Homo sapiens: one gene and its partners. The protein of the gene in region 3 interacts with the protein of the main gene of each other region in a biochemical or structural test. Each region holds a gene or a part of one and is shown on either strand. Other genes may lie near its edges.

Evidence for each region.
Region 1: the proteins of AKT2 (region 3) and SH3RF1 form a complex in vitro, tested with the Homo sapiens proteins (2 studies listed by BioGRID and IntAct, with this or other methods).
Region 2: the proteins of AKT2 (region 3) and APPL1 form a complex in vitro, tested with the Homo sapiens proteins (one study listed by BioGRID).
Region 4: of the proteins of AKT2 (region 3) and PIP5K1C, one has a biochemical effect on the other in vitro, tested with the Homo sapiens proteins (one study listed by BioGRID).

What each region holds. Positions count from the first base shown.
Region 1 is NC_000004.12:169,267,934-169,275,203, reverse strand, and holds the start of SH3RF1 (E3 ubiquitin-protein ligase SH3RF1), read left to right. Parts: upstream 1-4,247; 5' UTR 4,248-4,345; intron 4,346-5,896; 5' UTR 5,897-5,991; coding exon 5,992-6,384; intron 6,385-7,270. UniProt on the Homo sapiens protein: Has E3 ubiquitin-protein ligase activity. In the absence of an external substrate, it can catalyze self-ubiquitination. Stimulates ubiquitination of potassium channel KCNJ1, enhancing it's dynamin-dependent and clathrin-independent endocytosis.
Region 2 is NC_000003.12:57,230,717-57,237,739, forward strand, and holds part of APPL1 (DCC-interacting protein 13-alpha), read left to right. Parts: exon of another isoform or gene 1-48; coding exon of another isoform or gene 49-51; intron 52-4,849; coding exon 4,850-4,948; intron 4,949-6,775; coding exon 6,776-6,835; intron 6,836-7,023. UniProt on the Homo sapiens protein: Multifunctional adapter protein that binds to various membrane receptors, nuclear factors and signaling proteins to regulate many processes, such as cell proliferation, immune response, endosomal trafficking and cell metabolism.
Region 3 is NC_000019.10:40,240,343-40,247,365, reverse strand, and holds part of AKT2 (RAC-beta serine/threonine-protein kinase), read left to right. Parts: intron 1-4,678; coding exon 4,679-4,832; intron 4,833-5,296; coding exon 5,297-5,428; intron 5,429-7,023. UniProt on the Homo sapiens protein: Serine/threonine kinase closely related to AKT1 and AKT3. All 3 enzymes, AKT1, AKT2 and AKT3, are collectively known as AKT kinase.
Region 4 is NC_000019.10:3,641,452-3,648,474, reverse strand, and holds part of PIP5K1C (phosphatidylinositol 4-phosphate 5-kinase type-1 gamma), read left to right. Parts: intron 1-1,088; coding exon 1,089-1,137; intron 1,138-2,416; coding exon 2,417-2,501; intron 2,502-4,223; coding exon 4,224-4,388; intron 4,389-5,093; coding exon 5,094-5,232; intron 5,233-5,535; coding exon 5,536-5,568; intron 5,569-6,665; coding exon 6,666-6,770; intron 6,771-7,023. UniProt on the Homo sapiens protein: Catalyzes the phosphorylation of phosphatidylinositol 4-phosphate (PtdIns(4)P/PI4P) to form phosphatidylinositol 4,5-bisphosphate (PtdIns(4,5)P2/PIP2), a lipid second messenger that regulates several cellular processes such as signal transduction, vesicle trafficking, actin cytoskeleton dynamics, cell adhesion, and cell motility.

The DNA of each region.
Region 1 (7,270 bases), on a different chromosome or scaffold from region 3:
CTCTCAATGGAACTTGGAACATTGCTTGCCTGATTTCCCATCTGTAGGGCAGTGAGGTACTAAATATCTATGTAGATTTAGGATAGCAAGAAATGTAACTGTATACTTGATTAACTCCTTATTTGAGAATTAGTTACTGGAACCCACTATGTGTTGGCTGTGAAGGACGTAATGGTAAAGAAGACAGACCCAGTCACTGACTTCAGGGAACTTATATTCAGGTAAAGAAGATAGGCAATAAATAAGGAATCAAAAAAATTAGACCACAAAAAGTGCTGCAAAGAAGACAGAAAGAGTACTATGCTGGGATGCAGTGGTGCAGGGTCCAAGTGGCAGTGAGTCTTGTAAGACAAAGACTATGTTTGACTCTAAATTTCAGGCATGATGGGAAGTAATTGATGAGTTTGGAGCAATGTAGTAACTGATATGTTATGCATTTTTTGTTGCTCACTCTGAATGTTACTACATTCTGGGCGAGATTATGGGGACAAGAGTGGAAACAGAGAGGCTGGTTTAGGACGGACAGAGACAAAGGGTGATGGTGGCTTAAATAAACTTGCACTGGAGGCAAAGGAAAGTGGGTATAAATTGAAATATATTTTGGGAGAAGCTAGCAGAATTGATGGAGAGGAAAAGGGAAATCAAAGATGACCCCTAGGTTTCTAGTTTGAACAACTGAATGAAGAGTGCTATCATTTACCAATATCATGGCAACTGGAGAAGAAACAAGGTTTGAAGGAAAATGATAATCAGACACATGTATATATATCCGTGTGAAAGCATAGTACCAAAGTTTACCAAAGAGTGCTCTGGATTGGATATTTAAGTATCTGATTTTTGTCACCACTTAGAGCAATAACTTATCTACATCTTGTTGTTTCCCGTCTACATGGAAATAATCATATCTGTCTTTACCGCTTCTGAGGGATGCTGAGAAGACAGATGAGATAATATATATGAAAGTCCTTTGAAGTCTTGGGAGGATAAGAACTGTGTAAACGCAAGCTATCATTATTATGTCACAGGGTGTGTTTTATGTTTTTCATGGTTCTACTCAAAGTCACAGGGATCTTAAGCACAACATGCTTACATTCCTTCCTTCATGTTCAGTTCCCAGACATGAAAAGATGAACATGCTTCTCTTCCCCAACTGCCCCTTTCCCTATATTATTGACAGGACTTTGCAATTACTAGAATTATACCAAACTTATTTATTTATTTGAGACAGAGTCTTGCTTTGTCACCCAGACTGGAGTGCAGTGGCGCAATCTCGGCTCACTGCAACCTCCACTTCCCAGGTTCAAGCAATTCTCCTGCCTCAGCCTCCCAAGTAGTTGTGATTCCAGGTGACTGCCACCATGCTTGGCTAATTTTTTTTTTTTTTTTTTTTTTTTTGTATTCTTACTAGAGACAGGTTTTCACCATGTTGGCCAGGCTGGTCTTGAACTCCTGACCTCAGGTGATCCACCTGCCTCGGCCTCCCAAAGTGCTGGGATTACAGGTGTGAGTGACCGTGCCTGGCCTATCCCAAACTTTTTTAAGACCCTGGGAAGAAAGGACTTTGCCCAGAATAACTGCCTGGGTGATTCTTGGCAGATTATGATAATGATGCTATCTGACTTTAATAGAGATATACAGATTACAAAGAACCAGCATGTTGTCTCATCTAGTCATCCCACAACACTCTGAGAAAGATATTTTTTTTTTCAACCATTTGACAGAAAATGGCTCAGGAGGTTAAAGTAACTTGCCTAAAACTTCACTTTACAGCTGGAGTAACTAAAGCTAATAAAAGTGTTGTGTTCTAAAAACTATAGAACATGCACCAGGGGCATTCAAAGAACTGCAGCCACATCCCAGATAATATTCATGAGATGTATGCCAGATTCTTCGACCACTGCAGTCTTGGGACACACTGTCTTCAGTTCTTTGAAAACGGGTGTGGCCAGGCGCCGTGGCTCACGCCTGTAATCCCAGCACTTTGGGAAGCTGAGGCGGGCAGATCACCTGAGGTCACAGGAGTTCGAGACCAGCCTGACCAACATAGAGAAACCCCGTCTCTACTAAAAATACAAAATTAGCTGGGTGTGGTGGGTGCCAGCCTGGGCAATAAGAGTGAAACTCCGTCTCAAAAAAAAAAAAAAAAAGAAAAGAAAAGAAAATGGGTGTGACTATTGATTTTCTTTTGCCAGGAGTTTCAAGAGCTGCACCATTCTATCTATGACCTTGTGTGCTGCTCTCTAAAAATACATAGGAAACCAAAATAAGAACACAATAAAAACTGTCCCTTGCTTTCGAGTAATTACATGATTAACAGTTTCTTCTTTCCCTTGGGAAGAGACACACTGCTTTGCTTTGCCTAGGGTGGGGATATGACGGTCCTGTGCAAAAGACAGGGCCTTGGAATGGTGCAAAGAGAACTGGACTTGGAATCCAGAGAGCTGGGACTGAGTCTTGGTTCAACATTACTTACTGTGTGACCAGGGGAAAGTTAACCTATTTGAGCTTCAGTTTTAATAACTGCAAATAATCCCTATCTGTTTATTGACTGTAATCTTCTGGTCAGCCTCATCTTCATCTATCTGCCCAGTTCCACATGCAGAACTAAGTAGTAACTTTCAGTTTGCAAACTGGACTAGAAATTCTCCATTCCATTCATTCCTTCCGTCGTCTTTCTCAGCTCAAATGCCCATGTATTTGCTCACTTCTAATGGAAGGGGAAGTGGGCTATTATTTTTGGTTTTCATACATTATGACTCTCAGCATATGAATCTATTTAGAACAAGGCTGAGAAAAGATGACATAGAGGGTTGCTGAGAGAATTGAACTGATGCATGAAAAATGTTCAGCACAGTGCCTGATTTACAGTGAGTGATCATTGTTAGCTGTCATAATTTTTTCAGGCTTATGTGATCCTTATGTCTTGAATGGTTTAGCTGTGGCCCTAGCTGGAGACTAGAGGATAAACTGAGACTCCTCGTCAAATCATAAACCTAGTTGGTGGCTGGGCAGAGATTTCTTGCATCATCTGTTGTAACCCTTTCTTCTTATAACCACCTAGTTTCTGCCCACCTTTGAGGAGGGGTATTTGGGATAACTTTTTGTAAATTGATGGTAAATGCAAATATAGTAATGTCAACTTTAGATCAGTGACAAAATTTTAACTTGCTTCTCCACTAAATCGAGACTGAAAAACCTCAAAACCTATGGACAAGATGTTTTTCAAAACTCCACTTCGGTTTACAGGTGTGTGCTTGGGGCAACCAAAACAAAGATTACTGCGATGATGGCAGCCACCCAGGCTCAGATAAAAGAGGCGCCTCTCAGCGTGCTTTGCGGTGCCAGCCCACCTGAGGTCAGACTCAATTCTCCCCACTTAGGGCAGGGATAACAGAGCCCCCGAGCCTGGGTTGGAAGTCCGTACTACCGTTTTCCTAGTCTTGGGCTTTGGGGTCAGCGGTCCTCCAGGCTTGCTCCGGTTTGGGTCCTGGGGTGACTGATGGCTGGGTGCGGACAGGTGGCCGCGGCACTGTCCCCATCGATTCACCACGCCGCTCTCGGCCCTAAGGGGCAACACTTCGCTCCGACTCTACCAAGTAAGTGTCCGGGGTGGGCAACCAGACGCAAAGCGCAGCGGGATCGGTTCCCGCCAGGGCTGCTCCCGCCGCCTCCGCGGACCCAGCCCCTCCCGCGCCGCGACTCGCCCAGCCTGGGGAGGAAGGGTCCGTCCAGGGCTCCCAGCCCCGCCGGGGGGAGGAGGAGGCGGCGGGACCCTGTCCCGGGGCTTCTTCCTGCTTCCCCCAGCCTCCACTCCCGCCGCCTTCCCGTCCGGTGGCTCCATTTTTCAGGCGCGTTCTCCTCAGGGAGAAGGCGTCCGTCCCCGAGCCTTCCCCTCGTAGTCCCCTGGGGGCCCCGCTCCCCATCCTCTAGGCTCTTGCAGCGCCCCCTCAGGCCGCCGCCCCAATCCCGCCCCCGGGCTCCGGCGGGGTACTGGGCGCAGGTCACCTCAGCGCGGGAGGCCGGCGCGGCGGCGGGTGGCTCCGAGAGGTGCCGCGCCCGCTCCCGGGGAAGGCGCTGTGGCGCGGGGCCGCCCCCTTGCGCCCCGGGCGCCGGCTGCGTCCCGGCCTCCTCCTCCTCTTCCTCCGCCCTCCTTGGCTGGGAAAGTGGGAGGCGGCGGCGGCGGCGTGGTGTGTGTGCGCGCGTGAGGGGGGCAGCAGAGAGGAGTCTCCCGGTGCCGCCGCGGCGTCAGAGACACTGCGAGCGGCGAGCGCGGTGGGGCCGCATCTGCATCAGCCGCCGCAGCCGCTGCGGGGCCGCGAACAAAGAGGAGGAGCCGAGGCGCGAGGTAGGGCGCGCGGCCGGCGCGGGGTCGACGGGGACCCAGCGTCGGCGGACCCCTAGCCGCGGAGAAGGCGGTGGTCTCGACATTCCCCCATCCCCGCCCTGGGTCGGTCTCTCTCTCCCCTCGCCCTCGGGTCCCCGTGGGCCGGGAATCAGGACCTGCGGAAGCGGAGCAGCCCGCGGCCTCTGCCTTCTCCGGGCAGGAAGCTGCCAGGGCTCCGTGCCGCGGTCTCCCCGGGCGCAGCCCAGCACCCCCTGCTTCCCGGATGGCGCGGTCTCTCTGGGGACTGTCGCCTTATCTTGGCTGGGCTAGAAAGCTGCTTCCCCGTGGCACTCTGTGGGGCTGAGTTTCGCAACTTAAGCCTGCGCATTTATTTTTAAGTCCTTGAAAACTTCCCGCAGTCGTGTAGAGGGATTTGTGTCCCCGGCCTGAGCTAAAGGGAGGCGGAGATGAGGGAGGCTGTAGGGTGAGATCCCCACGCCGGGACCGGCCGGGCCGCAGCCCCAGGCCGCGACCGGCTCCTGCCGGGTGCCGCCGACACCTGGCCCCGGGGTGTGTCTGCGGCGAGCGGCCGCCGCGCCTCCCTGCGGGCTTGGGAGTACCTGTGCTTGGCGCCGTGGGAGCGGGGGTGCAGCCCTGGGGCTCCCCCGCTCCGGCTTTGTCAAGAACAGCTGTTAATGCTCCCAGCCAAATCTTTTTACTCCCGTTCTCCTGGGCATTCACTTTTACATTTATTTTGGCGGTGGGGGGAGAGCGGCGCAGTAAGTGGCTTGCTTTTTCCTGAATGGCCTCATTTTCATATGCCCACAGTTTCCAGTCCAACCTTCCATTGTCGAATTCTTTTGGTGATAATTTTGCCAGCTTTTCTGAATGGGATTAGGACAGGCCGTTCAGAAATGTGTTTCAGAGTTTATCAACTACTGCCCTGAAGGGCGCTTTTCTGTTTTAGCTGCTTTCAAGCAAATCTGTGTCTTTTAGAATTGTCAACCTTCAGCTCTTTTTGGTTGGGCAAAATTAAACAGTTCTATTTTTAATAACAGCGAAGAAACATATGTATTTAATATTGGGATCATTTACCACGAGCGATTACATGAGGCATGGTTTCTTAAACGCTAAAGTGGCTTAAAAAAGGGAATTTAGTTGGATATAAAAGTAAATTTCAGGTAGAGGAAACTTTCAATGGCCTCTGTCAGCTTCTCCTATGAGTTGAAGACTTTATTAAGGCAGCTGATACCACTTTCAGAGCTTAAGAAATTATGTTCCTTATTGCACTTCATAAATCCTTCTGCGGGAATTATGTAATACTCTGTGCCTTGTGTTTGCCCAGTGAATCCCTAGATATCTTTAGGGGTTAATTTTGCGTTGTTTAGAAAGCCTGTTTTGTTTTCAGTTGTTGACTTTGGAGTTTAGGAACCCACATTCCAAAGCAAAGCTACACTATTCAGACAGGGAATAGTGTACTTTTGGGTACTTTTTGATTCTTGGCTCCTTTGAACTTTTTCCCTAGATAACAACACTCATGTTCTCTTTTCCCCCTTTTCCCCATGACTCTAGAGCAAAGTCTGAAATGGATGTTACATGAGTCATTTTAAGGGATGCACACAACTATGAACATTTCTGAAGATTTTTTCTCAGTAAAGTAGATAAAGATGGATGAATCAGCCTTGTTGGATCTTTTGGAGTGTCCGGTGTGTCTAGAGCGCCTTGATGCTTCTGCGAAGGTCTTGCCTTGCCAGCATACGTTTTGCAAGCGATGTTTGCTGGGGATCGTAGGTTCTCGAAATGAACTCAGATGTCCCGAGTGCAGGACTCTTGTTGGCTCGGGTGTCGAGGAGCTTCCCAGTAACATCTTGCTGGTCAGACTTCTGGATGGCATCAAACAGAGGCCTTGGAAACCTGGTCCTGGTGGGGGAAGTGGGACCAACTGCACAAATGCATTAAGGTCTCAGAGCAGCACTGTGGCTAATTGTAGCTCAAAAGATCTGCAGAGCTCCCAGGGCGGACAGCAGCCTCGGGTGCAATCCTGGAGCCCCCCAGTGAGGGTAAGTAGCCTACAGAGGTAGTTTGGTGAATAAAGGTGGTAATGTCCACATTTTTTCTTTATTCTTTAGCTTGGTGTTTTCGAAGTCAACTCATTGCTTAGGAAACCATACATACTGGAACAGATAGATTATACCTCTGAATATTTTTTTCCCCCATCTTGGAATGAGATTGGATATAAATAATAAATTTTATTGTTTTGAAAATTATCTCTAGATAGTCTCTGTTATCTTTTAAGATAAATTTTGGGAAACAAGTAGCAATTAGTGAATGAAATCTAAACCAGCTTTTGTTCTGTGCCCATTTTAAAATGGAAATTTGGTATTTTATCATTTTGATGGGGCTCAGAGTCATAATTACATGTATGTAGTACATATGTAGTATATATGTTGTAAGTATGTGTGTGGGTAAATCATAAATAGGAAATCAAGCCTTAATTTTTATGTTGCTTAGAATCATTCTATTGGTTTTATGAATACACAGCACAGAATTTACTCGTTGGTGGAATTCTTAACAAATCATGGCTACAGGTAGCAGAGTTTCGTTGCTGTAGCAACAAAATGTCACTTAGGACTACACTAAAACATCTAGCTTTATGTTGGGCTTTATAGTGAATGAAATGAAGTATTTCCATCGAAATGATTTTTCTTGGGATTTGAGTTTGGGCTGAAATAATTTTAGATGAAGCTAATTATTTGGACAGCTACCACAACTGTCACACAAAATTTCTGTATTTATTAGAAATATATATAAATAATCTGTATTTATTAGAAATATAGGTATTTCTAATAAATATAAATTATGTTGCAGGTGATGGATTCCTGATAAAATGTGCTTTCTCATTTTTGCAAAAATAAAAAGTAGTCAAGAGCATCAGTAATTAAAACA
Region 2 (7,023 bases), on a different chromosome or scaffold from region 3:
AGAGTCCAAGAAGCAGAGCAGCAAAGAATATGAAGACTTTTAAAGCTCATGGTAAGTTTTTTGTTTTTTTTTTGAGACAGAGTCTCACTGTCACGTAGGTTGGATTGCAGTGGCACAGCCATAGCTCTGAAACCTCAAACTCCTGGGCACACGCCACCAAGCTCAGCTAATTTTATTTTATTTTATTTTTATTTTTTGGAGATGGAGTTTCGCTCTTGTCGCCTAGGCTAGAGTGCAGTGGCATGATCTTGGCTCACTGCAACCTCCACCTCCCGGGTTCAAGTGATTCTGCTTCCTCAGCCTCCCAAGTAGCCCAACTAATCTAAAAATTTTTTGTAGAAGACTGGGCGTGGTGGCTCATGCCTGTAATCTCAGCACTTTGGGAGGACGAGGCAGGTGAATCACGAGGTCAGGAGTTTGAGACCGACCTGGCCAACATAGTGAAACCCCGTCTCTCCTAAAAATACAAAAAATTAGCCGGGCGTGGTGGTGGACGTCTGTAATCCCAGCTACTCGGGAAGCTGAGGCAGGAGAATCACTTGAACCCGGGAGGCGGGGGTTGCAGTGAGCCGAAATTGTACCGTTGCACTCCAGCCCGGGCAACCGTGCGAGACTCCGTCTCAAAAAAAAAAAAAAAAAAAAAGAAAATTTTTTTTTTGTAAAGACAGGTTTTCACTATGTTGGCCAGGCTAGTCTTGAACTCCTGGCCTTAGTGCTGGGATTACAGATGTGAGCCACTGTACCAGGCCCTAAAAGTTTTTTGTTTGATTAGTTTTTAATTTTTTTTAGATCATTTAGATCTAATCAAAAGTGGCCTGCCAGTTGCTACCTAAAAAAGAGCCTTGGCCTGGCACAGTGGCTCATGCTTGTAAACACTTGAGGGTGGGGGTTCAAGACCACCCTGGGCCAAATAGCAAGACCTCATCTCTACAAAAAATAAAATTAGCTGGGCGTGGTGGCATGCACCTGTAGTCCCAGCTATTCAGGAGGCTAGGGCAGGAGGATCGATTGAGTCCAGGAGTCTGTGGCTGCAGTGAGCTATGATCACACCACTGCACTCCAGCCTGGGTAACAGAACGAGGCTTTGGCTCTTAAAAAAAAAAAAAAAAAGAGCCTGGGAGTGATGGAAGACTATCCTGAATTACAGTTACCCTTCTTTTAGTTTTGATTTATAGTAACTACGTATTAAATTAGGGAGAATTTGCAAGTCCAAAATCCAGCTGATCAAACAAGCATCTTTTAAGAATACTGCCTGGAACCTAGGTGGGGAAAAAGCATGTTTGGAATTACCTTGCCCAAACCAGACAGTTCTGCAAAAGATCATCCATTGAGCCAGAAAATCTTAAGCTTATAGTAGATGCCTTGTCCATATTTATATGTTGTTTTGAAAATCAAAATCAAAATAAACCTTGTTAATTACTAAGAACAGATAATGATCTTTAGAAAATTAATTGATTTTATATGTAGATATGTATCTTAGTGATTCATCTATGATAGAACAGTGAAGACAAACCCCAGTCCCAAATGGGATCTTCTGTTTTTGCATAATATGAATTAATCATGAGATGTGCCTTTCCTCCCAACATTTTGATGTCTCTGATTGGGATTCCTCTTAGAGTTGATGGTATATTAACAATTGCTATCAGCCAGGTAGCAGTAGTAATGTATTTCACATTGCCTGCAAATGTACATACTTGGTTGTTTCTCCTAGTAGCATACTGGCCAAGTGTAGTCTCTCAGTGTTCAACTAACAGATCAATTTTGCCACCATTTGAGAAAGGAATATCAGTCCTGGTTGTTGTCCGAAAACCTTCTTTTGACACCTGGTGAGATGTCAAATGACATCATCAAAATTTGCTGAATGAGTATCAGTTTCTTGGAAGAAAATATTAGGGACAAAAATGGAGTACTTCTAAGAAATACTTACCTCCTCATGGCACAGAGAATGATAATGTATAGGAAAACATGCATATTGATGACTCTCGAGTTGAAAAGTGGTTCATGGGCCCGGTGCGGTGGCTCACGCCTGTAATCCCAGCACTTTGGGAGGCCGAGGCGGGCAGATCACAAGGTCAGGAGATCGAGACCATCCTGGCTAACACGATGAAACCCCGTCTCTACTAAAAATACAAAAAATTAGCTGGGTGTGGTGGCTGGCACCTGTAGTCCCAGCTACACGGGAGGCTGAGGCAGGAGAATGGCATGAATCCGGGAGGCGGAGCGTGCAGTGAGCCAGGATCACACCACTGCACTCCAGCCTGGGCGACACAGTGAGACTCTGACTCAAAAAAAACCAAAAAACAAAAAAACAAAAAAGAAAAGTGGTTCATAAGATTCGAACTCTGTGAAGTTTTAGAAATAAATTTATGATGCTTATATTTGTTATGTTTACATGAGAGCTGTATATGATAAAATTCTGTGTGAAGGTCTGTTTTCATAAATATAAGGTAAAAAATTCAAGACATAAGAAAACCTTAAATCATAGCTTAATTGCCAGCATTGTTTTGTTTGAGTAGTACAAAAATGAAAATGATGCATCTTACAATGGATACCATCGTAGATTTGATGAAATGGTACCATATTGATTCTATTTTTTAAGCTACTAACTTTAAACAAACAGCAATTATCCAGTGTTGAAGTTGATATTGTTAGCTTAAAATAGGGAATCTGTTTCAACTTGCTTTGCGCTAAGAAGAGCTTTTAAATTTAATTATGCTACAAGTTTTTACATAAATATGTAACTCCTTGAATTGGAATTACCCATTTTTAGAAAAAAAAAAAACAAAACAGAAACGAAGCGGCAGATTTTTTTTAAGAATGGCACTAGCCAAACAAGATTTCCTGATGCTTTCTTTTTTACATCTTAAAATAGCACTATATGGAATTGTAGTGGAGTGTTTGAAAAATATTCTGTCAAATCTAAATCTCTGAGGCCTGGGGAAGTGGAGGACTGAAAATAGGGACTTACTGGCATCATGATTTTGTGTCCTTTCCCCTTCTTTATACTATATTGACTTAGCTTCCTCCTCTGAAAATAGGAAGCTAAGGAATAAGTTGATTTAAGAAAAAAAAATTTTTGGCCATGTGTGGTGGCTCACACCTGACCTGTAATCCCAGCACTTTGGGAGGCTGAGGTAGGAGAATTGCTTGAGCCCAGGTGTTTGAAACCAGCCTGAGCAGCATAGTGAGACCCTGTCACTACAAAAAATAGAAAAAAAGTAGCCAGACATGGTGGCACATGCCTGTAGTCCCAGCTACCTGGGAGGCTGAGGTGGGAGGATTTTTTGAGCTCAGGAGGTCAAGGCTGCAGTGAGCCGAGATCATGTTACTGCTCCAGCCTGGGAGAAGAATGAGACCCTATCTCAAACAACAACAGCGACACCCACAACAGTTTCTAAGGCTGAGGCATAAATTATTTTTAGAATAAAAATATATCTTTTAGATTTTAAGCTGCAGTTATCTCCAGTAGTTATTGGTATTTTCATTCTTCCCCTGGGCCTTTGGGATGTAATGTGAGTATGTCTACCTTGCCTTTGATAGCCTTAGTTTCCTTATCTTTGACAAATTTTTATTGACATTCTTTTTTTTTTTTTTTTTTTGAGACGGAGTCTCCCTCTATTGCCCAAGCTGGAGTGCGGTGGCATGATCTCGGCTCACTGCAAGCTCCGCCTCCCAGGTTCACGCCATTCTCCTGCCTCAGCCTCCTGAGTAGCTGGGACTGCAGGGGCCCGCCACCATGCCTGGATAATTTTTTTGTATTTTTAGTAGAGATGGGGTTTCACCGTGTTAGCCAGGATGGTCTCAATCTCCTGACCTCGTGATCCACCCGCCTCGGCCTCCCAAAGTGCTGGGATTACAGGCGTGAGCCACCGCACCCGGCCTGACATTCTTAACATTTACTTATAAGCTTTCCCCCTTAAAATAAAGATAATTTAAAAAAATTTTTTTATTTTGAGACAGAGTCTTGCTTTGTCGCCCGCCCAGGCTGAAGTGCAGTGGCGTGATCTCGGCTCACTGCAACCTTCACCTCCCAAGTTCAAGCTATTCTCTTGCCTCAGCCTCCTGAGTAGCTGTGACTACAGGCACGTGCCACCACACCCGGCTAATTTTTTGCATTTTTAGTAGAAACGGGGTTTCACTGTGTTAACCAGGATGGTCTCAATCTCCTGACCTCATGATCTGCCTGCCTCGGCCTCCCAAAGTGCTGAGATTACAGGCATGAACTACTGTGCTCGGCCTAAAATGAAGATAATTTTTAAATGTGCATGGTAGAAAAATGACAAAACAAAACAAAAGCCAAACAATATAGACATGTATAAAGAAGAAGAAAGGAAAACCCCCAAATTGTGCATTCGGAAAAACCTAGTTAGCATTTTATATGCTGAAGAGTCGGCCATGTTGGGGAGGGTGTACTGTGGTATTTTTAGATTAGGACAGGAAGGGGTTTGGCCTCTTCTAGCAAAAACTGTAGAAGAAATAATCATACTAAATTATCCTGAAGTAAGACATTTAAAATATTTATACTACATGGAATGCTGTTAATTTAGCTTTGAACGTTTCTGTTGATTTGTTCTTAGTTTATAGAATTTTTAGTTTATGAAAATATACCTCTGTTGTTTCTCCTAAAGTTTGTGTGACATAGTTGGAAAATACCTCTGCTTTGTTGAAGTGAAACTAAGAACAAAAAAAAAAGACTTCTTAACATTACTATCAAAAGAGACAAAATAGATTAAAACTCAGAATTACTAGAACTTTAATATCCTACGATTTTTGCTTCCTTTAGAAAAAATATTTTTCCATCTGATTTGTATAATGATTAACATAAACTTATTGCTATTGTTTTATACAGACAAGGTCTTTACTAGGTGTATTTGAAGAAGATGCCACAGCTATTTCCAACTATATGAACCAGTTGTATCAAGCTATGCATCGGATTTATGATGCACAGGTAAAACACTAAGGACTAACTTGATGCTTTTAAAACACGAATCTTTAAGCCTCATGAGGACAGATAGTGTCTGTCTTGTTTACCACTGCTTTAGCCCTGTGTTAGGCTCATAGTAATAAATATTTGTTGAATGGATTAATGAACATTGAGTGTATTACAGAACTGACATTTCAACTACTAGTGTACAGTTTGTAGTACTACAAAAGTGATAGACGATTGAAGCATCTGCCCATTCTCCCCAAACATAGTTTGGGGGGAACCCCCCATTAAACTCACTGATAGTGATCTTTCCTAAGATTTGAATGAAGACCCCATGTCATCACTGGTATTTTCCCTAATCATGCTTATTACAATCTTATGGAGCACTTCCCCACCCCCACTTTTTTTTTTTTTTTTTGAGATGGAGCTTTGCCCTTGTTGCCCAGGCTGGAGTGCAGTAGTGTGATCTTGGGTCACCACAACCTCCACACCCCAGGTTCAAGTGAGTCTCCTGCCTCAGCCTCTCAAGTAGCTGGGATTACAGGCATGCACCAGCACGCCTGGCTAATTTTGTATTTTTAGTAGAGACAGGGTTTCTCCATGTTGGTCAGGCTGGTCTCGAACTCCCGACCTCAGGTGATCCGCCCGCCTTGGCCTCCCAAAGTGCTGAGATTGTACCCAGCCCCCTTTTTTTTTTTTTTGGAGATGGAGTTTTGCTAATGTCTCCCAGGCTGGAGTGCAATGGTGCAATCTCAGCTCACTGCACCCTCCACCTCCCAGGTTCAAGCAATTCTTCTGACTCAGCCTCCTGAGTAGCTGGAACTACAGGCATGCACTACTACGCCCAGATAATTTTGTATTTTTAGTAGAGGCAGGGTTTCACCATGTTGGCCAGGCTGGTCTCGAACTCCTGACCTCAGGTGATCTGCCCGCCTCGGCCTCCCAAAGTGCTGGGATTACAGGCGTGAGCCACTGCACCTGGCCAACACTTTCCCTTTTTCAGTGGAGGATTTGAAAGTTGGCTGCCTCTGTCTAGTTAAAAGAAGGCACTAAAAATTAGATGTACCTCTGGAGTACAAGAAGATGAAGGGTATGACTAAGTTTTCTTATTGACCAGCAATAAAATTTGAAGCTATGTTTGGATAACTTAATTATAAGCTTAAACAGCAACCTAGGTTCTGTAATATACTTTCTTTGGGATTAATTAAGCGTACAAGTTTTATTTTTTTCCCTTCTCATATTGTTTGCTTTCTGGCTTCACATTTTCATTATGTACTTAAGAGTTGCTATGTTGTTGTTTAGTTTTTCCTTGTGATCAGGCTCTGAAGCTTTGCTTTCTGACTACAGAGATATATGATTAATATGTTAAAGAAATGTTCTCTTTGTTATATTCACCAAAAAAACTAAATTAAAGTTTTTCATATGGCTGTGTTGCTATGTTATATGACTGGGTCAACCACATTTTGGTTGTATGTTATTAAGTGCTTACTGTAGTCTAGTATCAGCATCTACAGAGGGCAATAATCAGTCATCAACGTAGATGCTCTAAAGATTTTGCTAAGGTTATATCAGTTTATTTCTAGGCTTTAAAGTATTTAGTGCTTAGTTTTTATTAGCAAAAAACAAACACCAGGAACACTGCTGAATTCCTGGAGAGTGTCTATTTTATGGTTTGAGTTTTCTTTTAAAGTGCTTTAATGGTAGTACCCCTTTCCAGTGATTTAATGAAGGTTTTAAAAAACATGTACAATATTTATGTTAAGTGATAATAAATAAATTAGGTATTTAATTAGAAAAAACTAAAACTTTTTTCCCAGTAATATGCTAATTTGAATGCTTTTTCCATAGAATGAATTAAGTGCAGCAACACACCTGACCTCAAAACTTTTAAAAGAATATGAAAAACAGGTATTGTATATCAAAGTTTTAAAAGCATAATTTTAAAAGTATAGTATCTGTATAGATAGACTTTCAACAAGAATCCTTAAGTTTTCTTGAATTCACAGAATATGCCATTGAAATTTCATGATAGCACTTATGTTCAGATAATTTTAATGATTTAATATTAAATACAGAGGCTATCTAGTTTACTTGTT
Region 3 (7,023 bases):
GGCTCTTGAGAATTGCAGTGCTCTTGAGAATCAAGCGAGGTGGTGTCTGGAGCTAGCCACTCAGTGCTGTTATTTTTACAGTCGTGGTTTACCCAGGGGCTCTCCTCTGGGGGCTAGAAGATACTTGAGGCCCAGCTTCATGGGGAGCTCCCCTTTGCCCCAGACGCCATGTTGCAAACCCTTGAGAAGGATCCTGGACAGAGGCCCTTGCTTTTCATCTGGAATTCTGAGTGCTGCAACCTTGCAACTTTGGTCCAGTTAGAATTGGATCGGAAGCTAGTCAGGCAGCAGGCGAGCCCCAGTTACTCCCAGATAACCTCCTGCATTGCTGTGGTTTCTGGAGCTTTCTGTAGGGTGGGCAGTGGGAGCCAGGGTAGGTGGGGTAGGCCCGCCCCTGCGAGTGTCTTCGGCACCCTCCCTTCCACCCCGCCCTGCGCGCGGTGCTCTGCGCCGACAGCCCGCCAACCTCTTAGCCCCAGGCCCAGGCCCTGGTGGAGGGGAGAGCTGGGAGGGCTGAGCTGGTCCAGGTGGCAGAGCCACTCTTGGAGCCCCAGCTGGGGTGGGTCCAGGGCCTGTGCTCCTGATTCCCATCTGGAGTAGCCTCCCAGAGCTGCTTCTGGGCTGGTGGTGTGGCAGTGCCATCCTTCATGTATTTGGGTTCTCTCCACAGAGGGACCATCTGTGTTCTCTCCACCCCTGTCTTTGAAAACAAAGATGATACCACGCTGTACATCTTAGTCTGCAATCTGCCATCTTCACGTGACAGTCTCTCAAGATCTTTATATATGAGAGACATATTTTCCTTTTTAATATCTTCACTGTATCTCTTAGGAGATCTGTGATTTTTTTTTTCCCAATCCGCCATCATTTACTCAGAGTCAGCATTAAAAAAATTTAAAATTTGTGAGAGGACAACTATGTCTGATAAAGCATGTCATGGAAGGCTGGGCACAGCAGCTCACACCTGTAATCCCAGCACTTGGGGAGACCGAGGCAGGCAGATCATGAGGTCAAGAGATCGAGACCATCCTGGCCAACATGGTGAAACCCTGTCTCTACTAAAAATACAAAAATTATGGTGGCGGGTGCCTGTAGTTCCAGCTACTCTGGAGGCTGAGGCAGGAGAATCGCTTAAACCTGGGAGCCACTGCACTCCAGCCTGGCAGCAAAGCGAGACTCTGTCTCCAAAAACAAAAAGAAACAAAAAAGAAAAAAGCCTGTCATGGAATGGGCTCCTGCCCTGTCCCCGGCCCCTGCTTTTTTTTTTTTTTTTTTTTGAAAAACAGGAATATTAGTGTAGGGTTTGGGAATTAGGCTGTAATTTGTTCCTAAGGGGGCATGGGTTAAAGCAAGTTGAGAAATACTGGCTTGAGATGTTGGGCCAGGGAGTGCAGAAGCCAACACCGCTCTGCCCGGGTGTGCACCAGGGCTCAGTGCGTGCTCTGCCCGGGTCTGCACTGGGCCCTGCTGCGCCCTGGCCCTGGGGCCACTTGGACTTTGGCTGCCTCACTCTTTCATTACCCAAGTATCTACTGAGTATCCACCATGAGTTCTGGGGGCAGAACTGTGTTCAAAGCAGGTGGAAATCTCTGCCTCCGTGGGGTGGACATAGATGGGTTATGGGGACTCCAGTCTCTGAGTGGGTGGGGAGGGCAGCGTGCCTTTTGTAATTCCAGCTACCAAGCCTGGAGCAACTGCTGTTTTTCTGGAATCTGTTTTTTCAATCTGTGCCCCAGTTCCTCCTTCATAATGGGTGGGAGTAGGGATAGTTGATGATAGCAAGTGCTTCCCATTTGTTATTAGAGGCTGTTCCTTTCCTTCGACTCCCAGTTCCCCTCCCTTGGAGGCAGGCAGGGCTCCAGGATCATGACTTCTCTTCTGGAGATGTTTGTGCCTATGTGAGCATGTGTCTGCAGAAGTTCATTATTTTCTAACTTAGGAGCACAGAACTGTATACTGTTCTTCACCTTCCTTAATTTTGAAATTTTTTATAAAGGCGTGGTCTTCTTATGTTGTCTAGGCTGGTCTGGAATTCCTGGGCTCAAGCAGTCCTCCAGCCTCTGCCTCCTAAATTGCAGGGATTACATGAGTGAGCTACCTTGCCCATCCCTGCACCTTCCTTTTTCTCTTAAGAAGTCTCAGATCATCCCAAGTCAGCATACAGACCTGCCTCAATCTTTCCCCCAGCTGCAGAATGTCTCATTGCACAGATGCCTCACAGGCATTCTACCTCACGACAGCCTGTGTATTAAACACTGCTGTGATATTTCATCAAATCGAAGGCGCTGTCATTGGGGAGGCACCCTGTTTCATATAGTGCCAAGAAAAAGGCGTGCCCAGTTAAATCAAGACAGACCCCAACTGTGAGATTAATCTGCATTCCAGCAGTGTCAAAATGTGGAAGAGGGTGCGTTGTGGGATGGATGGAAATAGAAGTAGTTTCGCGTGGTACACCAGGAAACGAGACTGGGGAGGAATACAGCCCAGCAGGGTGTCCCGGCTTGGATTTTGAAGCCCAGTCCCAGCCACACTTGTTCCCTGCCTGACCTTGGGTAGGGGCCCCAGTGTCTCAGGAACACAGGAGCAGTGACACTTGCCCTGGGGCGGGGGCCATCCTGGAAGATGCTGTGAAGGGCTGGCTGCACTCCCTGTGGCTTATTTAAATCACTGGGATTTGCGTGATTACACTCTCTGAATTTTCTCATTCTTAGTGAACATTTTATTTTTCTTGTTGGTCATATGAGTATTTTCTAGATACAAGCAAAATACACGGGGGGTTCAAAATGCGTTGGGTTGAAACACCTAATTGCAGTGTGGTCAAAAATGGGGGATGTGGACAATTTGGTGTAATTCAGCCTAATATATTTTTCATTTTGGTCTCTGGTCATTTTCACTTATTAGACAGAACAGTTTGTAAGTATCCAAAGAAAATTATTTTGTTTTTTTTTTAGCTGATTGCAGTGGTATGATCATGGCTCACTGCAGCCTCCACCTCCTGGGCTCAAGCAGTTCTCCCACCTTAGCCCCCTGAGTAGCTGAGACCACAGGCATGTGCCCCCACACCTGGCTAATTTTTTATCTTTGGTCTCTACAAAGTGGGTATCCATGTTGCCTAGGCTGGTCTCAAACTTCCGGATGCAAGCCATCGTCCCGTCTCAGTCTCCCAAAGTGCCAGGATTGCAGGTGTGAGCCACCGAGCCCAGCTCAAAGACAGTTCTTTCTCAGCAAGTTCTAAACCATGAGTGACAGAACTAGTTTATTGTTCTTTATTTTATTATTATTATTATTATTATTATTATTATTATTATTTTATTATTATTTTGGGATGGAGTCTCGCACTGTTGTCCAGGCTGGAGTGCAGTGGCGCGATCTCGGCTCACTGCAACCTCCGCCTCCCGGGTTCAAATGATCCTCTTGCCTCAGCCTCCCGAGTAGCTGGGATTACAGGCGCCCGTCACCACGCCCGGCTAATTTTTTGTATTTTTAGTAGAGACTGGGTTTTACTATGTTGGCCAGGCTGGTCTCGAACTCCTGACCTCAAGTGATCCTCCACCTTGGCCTCCCAAAGTGCTGGGATTACAGGCGTGAGCCATCGCACCTGGCCTGTTTTTATTTTTTATTTTTGTTTTTTAAAAACTTTTTAAGAGATGGGTCTTGCTTTGTTACCTAGGCTGGTCTTGAACGCTTCGGCTCAAGCACTTGGTCCACCTTGGCCTCCCAAAATGCTGGGATTACAGGTGTGAGCCACAGTGCTTAGCCTCTAGTTAACTGTTCTTAAACCAGGCTCCCTTCTGCTGGGACCTACTTCTTGTCCACCAGCTTCTCTCCTCTACATCCCTGGGCTGCCAGGACCTCTGTCCCTGCCATGCAGACTCCCTGCTCCCAGTGGACTGTCCCCTCCAGGGAGTCCTGCGGGCCAGCTCTTGCCTTGCAGTGTCTTCAGCTCCTTTGGCTAATGAATGCTGCTTCTTACTCTTGGTTTAACTTTACAAAACATTGGTAACTTATAAACTTGAGCTTGTCATTTGTTCCGAAGAATTCACAGGAGCACTCTCTCTCCCTCATTCAAGGCTCAGGGTGGTGGCTCATTTTCAAGGGGCTGTGAAAAGAGAGGGTCACTCCTTTTTGATCATTTCCCTGCTGCCTGGCTTCAAATGGCCCTCAGGCCAGGTCACTTTAGGGAAATTGGTGATCGCTCTTGGTATTCCACTTTTTTTTTTTTTTTGAGACGGAGTCTCGCACTGTCACCAGGCTGGAGTGCAGTGGTGCGATCTCTGCTCACTGCACCCTCCGCCTCCCGGGTTCAAGCAATTCTCCTGCCTCAGCCTCCTGAGTAGCTGGGATTAGGCGAATGCCACCCCTGACTAATTTTTGTATTTTTAGTAGAGACGGGGTTTCACCATGTTGGCCAGGCTGGTCTCGAACTCCTGACCTTGTGATCCATCCGCCTCAGCCTCCCAAAGTGCTGGGATTATAGGCATGAGCCACTGCGCCTGGCGTGGAATTTCACTCAGGTCCCTTCAGCTCTCTCTGGTTCTGACAGATCTTGCCCAAATTCCCATGGTTATGTGGTCATTTGCTTGCCTGTTGCTGGGGGTGGCTGGGAGGTGGCACTCAGCTGTTCGACTCTGAGGCCCAGGACTCCTGGCTGCTGGGACTCACGTGTGTCCCTGCACAGGGAGGAGTGGATGCGGGCCATCCAGATGGTCGCCAACAGCCTCAAGCAGCGGGCCCCAGGCGAGGACCCCATGGACTACAAGTGTGGCTCCCCCAGTGACTCCTCCACGACTGAGGAGATGGAAGTGGCGGTCAGCAAGGCACGGGCTAAAGTGGTAAGTGCTGGGAGCAGGGGTGGGGCTGCCAGCCTGCGGTGCCCCCACCCCCAGTGCTGGCCTGCTCTCCTTGGTTTCCATAACACAGTTCAGGGGGCTCAGCTGAGAGACAAGGCTGCCCTGCAGGGTGGGGTGATTTCAGGTGGCAGGTGCCCTAGGGTGTGCTCCATGCCCGTAGGGGAGGGAGCAACCTTGGGTGGACCCACTGCAGGTTCGTCCTGGGAGTTGGTGAAGACCTGGCTACCCCCACGTCAGAGCCCAGCCCTCCCAAGGCCCTGTGCCTGCAGAGCCTGGTCTGAAGGCCGCTTCAGAACACACAGTTGCTGCCCAGAGCCTCCCTTCCTGCTCCAGCCTAAGCCGTTTGGCAACAGTGTCTTTTGGTTTTCCTCTTTCTTTTGTTAAAATTTCCTCCCACGGGCCATGAGCCAGGCGCTGACTGCCCCCACTCTCCCTGTCCCTGGCAGACCATGAATGACTTCGACTATCTCAAACTCCTTGGCAAGGGAACCTTTGGCAAAGTCATCCTGGTGCGGGAGAAGGCCACTGGCCGCTACTACGCCATGAAGATCCTGCGGAAGGAAGTCATCATTGCCAAGGTGCGTGCCCCGGGAATTGCGCTCGCGAGCCTCTGTGGGGGCTGCGGTCTGGAGCCTGACCCTGAGGCCTGGACGCTTACCCGCGCTTTCTGCTGCTGTGGGCTTATTTCCCCCACAAATTCCCCCTAGTCAGAAAAGGGGGAGCCTGAGGCCCAGAGAGGAGCAGCAGGCCTTGCTGCTGAGTCCCCACCTCCACCCTATGTTAGGGGCTGGGGGTGCCTGTGGAGAGAGAGAGCCTCGGGGCCCCACCCAGCAGGTACTGTCAAGGGAGGCTGGGGCCTGTTGGGGAGGACGTCGCTGTTGGGGAGTCCCGGGCTTTGCTCAGGGTATCCCAGGTGGAGGCCGGGCCAGGAGTGGAATTCTACTTTTTCCCTTATTTGAATTTTTTGTAGTGGAAGATTCCAAAGACATTCAAAAATTTAAAAAGAAAATAAATATTACGGACCCCCATGTAGCCATTGTCCAGTTTAACCAGTTATCAGCGTTTAGCCAGCCTTGTTTCCTTAGCTCTGCCTGTCCCTCTTGTTCTGGAATACTTTAAGGCCTGTCCTAGACAACACGTCACTTCACTCATCCATACTTGAACATGTGTCCTGACAGATGAAGACTGTAAAGAATATAATCATGTGGTGCTGCCATCAGAGCCAACCAAATTAGCTGTTCATTCCTGATGTGACGATTGGGCCTAAGGCAGCCTTCCTCAGCCTCAGCACTGTTAACGTTTTGGGACAGATGATTCTGCGCTGTCGGGGCAGCCCTGTGCATTCTAGGGTTTCAGCAGCACCCCTGGCTTCTACCCACTGAAGCCAATACTAGCTCCCCAAGTTGTGACAATCAAAAATGACTTTTGGGTTGGGCGCCACAGCTCACGCCTGTAATTCCAGCACTTTAGAAGGCTGAGGTGGGAGGATCGCTTGAGCCCAGGAGTTCGAGACCAGCCTGGGCAACAAAGCAAGACCCTGTCTCTGTAAAAATAAAAATAAATTAGCTGGGCATAGTGGCGTGCACCTGTAGTCCCAGCTGCTCAGGAGGCTGAAGTGGGAGGATCAGTGGAGCCTCAGAGGTTGAGGCTGTAGTGACCCATGTTCACACCACTGCACTCCAGCCTGGGCGACAGAGCCAGACCCCCAGCTAAAAAAAAAAAGGGAAAAAAAAAAAAAAGACTTCAGACATTCTCAGGTGTCCCCTGGGGATAAACTTGCCCCAGAGAGAGCCTGTGTTCACGTTGCTGCAGGTGGCTCCAGATTTTTGGAACCACTCCTGGTGGTTCTGCTGTACAGTCAGGTACCAAATTAGAACCTGAATTAGAGTCACCCAAAGGGCTTGTGAGACAGTGCTGGGCCCACCCCGAGTTTCTGACTCAGTGGGCCTGGGGGTAGGTCCCAGGAATTTGCATTGCTGCCAGTTCCCAGGCGGTGCTGAGGTGCTGTGTGGGGACCACACCAAGAAGCACTGTTTTTCCTTCTTTGGGCAAGAATGCTTTCTAGGTGGGACTTCCCACAGCCTGTGGTGGCACCTCGGGGCTCTCGTGATGTCTGTTTGTCTCCCTTGCAGGGACGTCACAGGTGTCTTGTCCCTAGCAGCCTGGTCCTTAC
Region 4 (7,023 bases), about 37 Mb from region 3:
CGCCCCCAGGACACCCATGCACAGAGGCGCTTGCCCGTGGAAACAGCCGCACCAGCAGCTCTCGGGGCTTCCTCAACCTGGAAAGCTCTTGCTTGGCTGCCCCTTCTTGAGCCCTAAAGGGAAGGTGTTTGGTCGCCTTGAAAATCTAGAGTGAGTTGGGCGTAGTGGTCCACACCTGTAATCTAGCACTGTGGGAGGCCGAGGCGGGAGGATTGCTTGAGCCCAGGAGTTTGAGACCAGCCTGGGCAACATAGCAAGACCCCATCTCTACAAAATATCAAAAAATTAGCTGAGCGTGGTGGTGCTCCTGCAGTCCCAGCTACTTGGGAGGCCGAGGCAGGAGGATTCCTTGGGCCCAGGAGTCTGGGGCTGCAGCAGTGAGCTATGATGGCCGTACTGCACCCCAGGCTGGGTGACAGAGCAAGACCCTGTCCCAAAAAAAAAGAAAAAAGAAAATCCAAGGAGTGGGTTTGAGGCCTCACTTTGGGGCTCGAATATTTGTTTTTTGGTTTTTCATTTGTTTGTTTTAAGACAAAGTCTCGCTCTGTCACTCAGGCCGAAGAGCATTGGTGCGATCTTGGCTCACTGCAACCTCTGCCTTCTGAGTCGACCCTATTCTCCTGCCCCAGCCTCCCCAGTAGCTGGGATTACTGGCACGCGCCAGCACGCCCGGCTAATTTTTGTATTTTTAGTAGAGATGGGGTTTCACCATGTTGGCCAGGCTGGTCTTGAACTCCTGATCTCAGGTGATCTGCCTGCCTTGGCCTCCCAAAGTGCTGGGATTACAGGTGTGAGCCACCGTGCTCAGCTGGGGCTCTAGAATGTTTAAAAACAGTCACCCCCTCGGTACTATGGACATTGGGACCAGATGGTTCTCTGGGGTGGGGCCGTCCTGGGCCCTGCAGGGTACTGAGCAGAGAGCCTCCACCCACTCCCTGCCAGGAGCACCTGCCACCCTGAGTTTTGACAGCCACGACTGCTTGAGGCCATGGCCCAGTGTCCTGGGGGGTGCACAGTGGCCCCTGAGTGAGGTGGCCTGGCATGGGCTTGGCTGATGTCAGCTGCCACTCCGGGTGCTCTCTCCACAGGTTCATCAAGAAACTGGAGCACACCTGGAAGGCCCTCGTCCACGATGGGGTGAGCGCCTGCACCCTCCTCCCATTCCTCCTCCCATCCCTCCTCCTCCTGTGAGTGCCTGCACCCTCCTCCCATCCCTCCTCCCTCTGTGAGTGCCTGCACCCTCCTCCCATCCCTCCTCCCATCCCTCCTCCTCCTGTGAGTGCCTGCACCCTCCTCCCATCCCTCCTCTGTGAGTGCCTGCACCCTCCTCCCATCCCTCCTCTGTGAGTGCCTGCACCCTCCCCCCATCCCTCCTCCCTCTGTGAGCGCCTGCACCCTCCTCCCATCCCTCCTCCCTCTGTGAGCACCTGCACCCCTCCTCCCATCCCTCCTCCCTCTGTGAGCGCCTGCACCCTCCTCCCATCCTTCCTCCCTGTGAGCGCCTGCACCCCTCCTCCCATCCCTCCTCCCTCTGTGAGTGCCTGCACCCCTCCTCCCATCCTTCCTCCCTCTGTCCTCCTGTCTGTCGTCCCAGCCTTCCTCCCATCCGTCACTCCACAAACGCAGAGTACCGCCTGGGGCCAGGCACTGAGGACTAACGTCTGTGTGACCACAGCCTGTAGAATCCAAGATCCCAACAGGCACCCCCATTTTTCAAAAGAGCGTGTAGAAGGTCCAGGCAGGAGCTTCCAGAATAAGCCTTGAGCGGGTCAGGATGGCAGCTGGCAGAGGCCTCTGGGGATGTCTTAAACCTTGCCAAGGCCCGGAACCTGCTGCCCAGGGCAGATAGGAGCGCTGTCTCGGCTCTGACGAGGCTGGCCAGGGTGTCCTGTGCTGCCGCCGCATGTCCCTGGGGTTGTCCTTGTCCCCTGGCCCAGAGTGGCCGGGCACCACCTCCCACTGCAGCCTGCGGGGGTGGAGTCGTTCACAGTCCTGGTACGTGGCCACTCCTCACCCAAGGAGGCTGGGAAAGGAGGTTGCATTCTGGGAGGCCGAGATCACATCCCAGCAGGGCCCCAGCCAGGCCATCCTGCCTCAGCCTCCCCTACAAGTCCACGTGGGCCACTGTGCCTGGCCGGAATACTTTATTCAGCTGGTTTAAAAAGTCAAAAATGCTAACAGGTCTCTAGTGGAAAAGCCTCCACCCATTCCCTGGCACCCAGTCTCCCTCCCCAGAGGGAGCCACTGTTCCCTGTTCCGTGAGCCCCTCCCAGGAAGCCATGGCGCCATGGACCCATCTCGAGCCTTTTCACACAGAAGGTGCCCCCCACACACATACAGCGTCTGTCTGGGGCTGTCCCCAGCTGTTGATTGATGCACCCTCTGCCCCCGGGCACCCCCCCCAACTCTCTTCCAGGACACGGTGTCCGTCCACCGCCCCAGCTTCTATGCCGAGCGCTTTTTCAAGTTCATGAGCAACACGGTCTTTCGGAAGAACTCCTGTAAGCCACCTGAGCCCCGCAAGGCGGGAGGGACCCTGGGGAAGGCCCAGAGCGCCGTGGGGCAGGAGGGACTCTGCGGGAGGCCGAGAGCCCCCTGGGCAGGGCAGTAAACTCAGAGCCCCTGTGCCCCCCTCAGACCGGGCCTCATCCGGAGGTAGGGTAGTCGGGATATTTGCTCTGCACAGCGGTAGAGCACGGGTCTGGAGCCACCGCCAGAGCCTGAATCCTAGCCTGGCCTCGTCCTGCCCATGTGGCCTTGAGCAGGCACCTGCCTCTGTGCCTTGGTTTCCCCATTGGCACAGCACTGTGAGGGTACAGTGTTTATATATGGGATGGGTGGGCCTGACTCAGCAGATAGCTCACAGTGTGTGGGGCTGCCCACAGCATCACCATCGCCAAGGAAACGCACCCCGGGCAGGGGAACGCAGGAGGCTAGCCCAGCAGGGCATGGTCGGGAAGGTCCCAGGGCAAACAGTGGTGGGGAAGGTGGGGACTCGGGATTCACCCACAGGGTGCCCGGGGGAGGTCCCCATCTCTCAGGGCTCAGCTTCCCCTCATGGGCCACTGTAGCATCTGGACGCAGACTCTGGGTTCCAGGCCCCTGTGCAGACCTCAGCCCGTGGCCAACCTGCTGCCAGATGGATTCCCCCCTGGGGTCTGTTTCTCAGCCACCCTCCCCACCAGAAGGCTCCCGGGCTCCCCAGCATCCTGCACAGGCCTGGCCCACAGAGATGCTTGGGAAGTGTCTGGTGGGGGGCATGAATGATCTGCGGGTCCGCACCCACGGGGGTTGCAGGGAGGTGGCAGGGACAGGCACGCCAGTGCCCAGCGCTTGCAGGCAGGCTGCTCTTCCCGGCCTGCACACTTGCTCACGGCCTCGAGGTCAGGGACCCCCTCTCATCAACACCGTGGGAATTGGCAGACACCACGTGTCAGGATCTGTCTCCAGAGAGCCAGCCGTTGAGCCTGTCCCCACACCCCACTCTCTGGGACCGATGCCACAGGATCATTCCGTCATCCAGGGCTGTTTGCCAGCCTTTGGTGATTGTAGGAAGCTGCACAAGGCAAACTGAGCACCTACTGTTTACCAGGAGCTGTGTGGGTCATTCTGGGGGCAGAGGTCACAAGAGCTTGGTGAGGAGGCAGAGCTCACACAGCACTGAGGACAGGCCTGGCCCTGTGCGGGACATCACCTGCCCCACCTCACCCCACCGCTAAGGTCGGCCCCCAGGGCCCAGAGAGACCGAGCCGCACAGCCAGCGGGTGAGCCTGGATCTGCGCTCAGGCCCTACATGCTGAGCCACAGGCTTCTCTAACCACAACACCTGGTGCTCCCCAAGGCTGTCAGTGTCCATCTGAAAGTGGGGGCCCTGCCCGGGCTGGGCCGCACATAGAAGGGGTTGAAGCCTGCAGGCATCCCTGGCCAGCTCATTAGATGGGAGTCACTGGTCTGCAGGATCCCAGGAGGGGCAGGCACTGTGCCAGGTCCCAGTGTGTCTCATAGAGACAGTCGGGTGGGCAGGACAGGGAACTCGGGCTCGCAGTCCCTCCCCAGGCAGACCCCGGTTTTCCACCAAGAGGTTGTGGTGCTTCCTGGCCTCAGGGACCGGTAGGGGTCTGGTGGGCCACAGGGACGTGGGGTATATGTGGGCGGCGGCCCTGTCTGGGCTTTGCTATGAGCCCCCAGCAACCCCAAGCACCAACCCCCACCCTTCCCTGCAGCCCTGAAGTCCTCGCCCTCCAAGAAGGGGCGCGGCGGAGCCTTGCTAGCTGTGAAACCGCTGGGGCCCACCGCTGCCTTCTCGGCCAGCCAGATCCCTAGCGAGCGGGAGGAGGCCCAGTACGACCTGCGGGGGGCCCGCAGCTACCCCACGCTGGAGGACGAAGGTGAGGGGCAGAGGGCAGAGTGCGCTTGTGGGCGCTACAGGGGGTGCCAGCAGCAGCCCCGTGGGTGGGGTGCCGCCTCATCCTGAGTGCCCATCGCTCAGCCACCCCCTCCGGATCTGCAGGGCCGCCTGCCCAGGGAGTGGGGGCTGCTGGGACCGCCCCAGGGAAGAGCCCAGGGGGAGCTGAGTATAGAAGGCTCCACCAGGTGGGGTGGTGACAGCTCCCGCCTTCTCTCACGGCCACTGTCATCTGAGGTGCACCAGGATGCCATCGAAGGCATGCAGCCCCCAGGCTAGGGAATGAAGGAAGGGACATAGCCATGCAAGGGCCCTGGGGCAGGACCACACCTGCTGAGGGAACAGCAAGGAGCCCGTGTGGCCAAGCAGCGCGGAGGGGAAGGGAGGGGGGGTGGGGAGGGGAAGAGAGCAGTGGAGGGGAAGACAGCGGGGAGGGAGAGTGGAGAGGGGACGGGGCCAGGCTGCACAGGGCCCTCTGGGCTGTCTGGATTCTATTTTGAGAGCGGTCAGAAGCCTTTGTGTGAGGGGGAACGTCGTCCTTCCCTGCCGTGTGGGGAGGTGGGAGTGTCTGGGAGGCGGGCGGGCACTGGGCTGTGGGTTCCCAGGGTGAGCCAAGCCTCAGGGAGAATCGACTGTGTGTTTGGGGGCTCGGAGGCTCCGCAAGGTGCCCACAGTCCTCTCCCCTCAGGCCGGCCCGACCTCCTGCCCTGCACGCCACCTTCTTTCGAAGAAGCCACTACAGCCTCCATTGCCACGACTCTGTCATCCACATCCCTCTCCATTCCTGAGCGGTCCCCCTCGGAGACGTCGGAGCAGCCGCGGTACAGGTGGGCGAGGCATCCGCAGTGCATGTGGGCGGGGCATCCGCTGTGCGTGGGGGCGGGGCATTCACTGCATGTGGGCGGGGCATCCGCTGTGCATGTGGGTGGAGCATCGTATGTACGGTGGATGTACATACACTGCATGTGGGTGCGCGGGGGCGGAGCATCCAATGTGTGGGAGGGAGGAGCATATGTACAGGTGGGCAGGGCTGCCAGGGGGCAGGTAGGCAGGCGGGTAGGCAAGGCAGGTAGACTGAGCAGGCGGGCCACTCTCTTTCTGGGTGTCACGTGTTTGCTGTATCTCTGCAGGCGGCGCACACAGTCGTCTGGACAGGATGGCAGGTGAGACCCAACCCCCTTCCTTCCCTGGGTCTCACCAGCTCCTCCTGCACAGCTCCCAGCTCCGTTTCCCGCCCCCCAGCCCCTCTGCTCTCTGCCCATTCTCTCCTGGGGACAGATTTAAGATTGTAGCACTCGGCCCTAGCACCGCACACAATCTTCCAGCCACTTTGTTTTTCTTACAGCCAGAGCCAGGGCAGCTCTGGTCTGTGGATCCTTCCTTATTTCTTCTTCTATTAAGTTTTTTTTTTAACTTAAAACAAGATACAAGAGGGAATATCGTGAAATGCGCCCCCTCCTGCCCACGGCCTGTCCCCTCCCCAGGAGCAACCACTGGGACTGTGGGTTTTGTCTCTTGGAAGATACTTTCTGGGAACACAGCAGACGTGCACCAGGCTTGTGGTTCCCTTTTATTTTGACACAAATGGGCACACCCGTGCACGCCGCCCACACCTTGCTGTTGTCACTCGACTGACGGGGATCTCAGGGGTGGGTGCGCGCCGTTCCTGTCACGCCTGCGTGCCGTCCTTCCATCCCATGGACTGCACCTGGCTTTAAGTGCCCAGCCCTCGGGGACATTTGCGAGGTCCCTGGGGTCTCACTCTTGTGAACACTGGGGCAGTGGCGCGGTGTTGCTTTTCTTAACCGTGTTTTAATCGCTGCCGCCTGGTGAAAGAAACCCCTTGGTGCCCTGGGTGGGATGTGACCCTCCCTGCAGTCTAGCGTGCCATTTGGAGAGACATGTTACATGGCCAGGCCCGGCGGCCGGGACACTGAGTCACTTGTGTCAGGGCCTCGGCTGCCAGGTGCAGGCACTGCCTGGAGGGTGGGCAGGGTCTGTGGCACCCACACCGGTCGGGGCTGCCATTTGCTCATATGCCCCCAGAGCCCGCTACACCCCAGGCCCTGCTGGCACCACAGTCACCAAGGGACCCAGGTGGACAGTCCCCGGGCTGGGAGTGACAGCCAGAAAGAACAGACCCAATCAGGAGGCTCCCAACTCCCCTCTGGGACTGGCCCTGGAGTTCACTGGGCACTCCTGGGGGTAGGATGGGGGAAGTGAGGAGGGAAACCGAGGCACAACCTCCCATTGCCTGCAGGCCGCAGGAGGAGCCACCCGCGGAAGAGGATCTGCAGCAGATTACAGTGCAGGTGGAGCCTGCGTGCAGCGTGGAGATTGTGGTCCCCAAAGAGGAGGACGCAGGGTGAGCACGGCCTCGGCGGGAGGTCGGGGCGCCCACCTGCTGCGGGCCCAGAGGAGCCAAGAGCACCCCGAGGTTTCATCATGAAGCAGTTCTTTCTTACTAGGTTGTATTCACAGATGGTGGATTTTCCCATAAGTTTATTTTTTGATTGAAGGGAGTGGTTCTCGACTAGCCGGGGTGATCCTAGCCCCCAGGGGACACTGGGCGATGCCTGGGGACATTTGTGACTGTTAGAACTGGGGGGTGCTCCTGG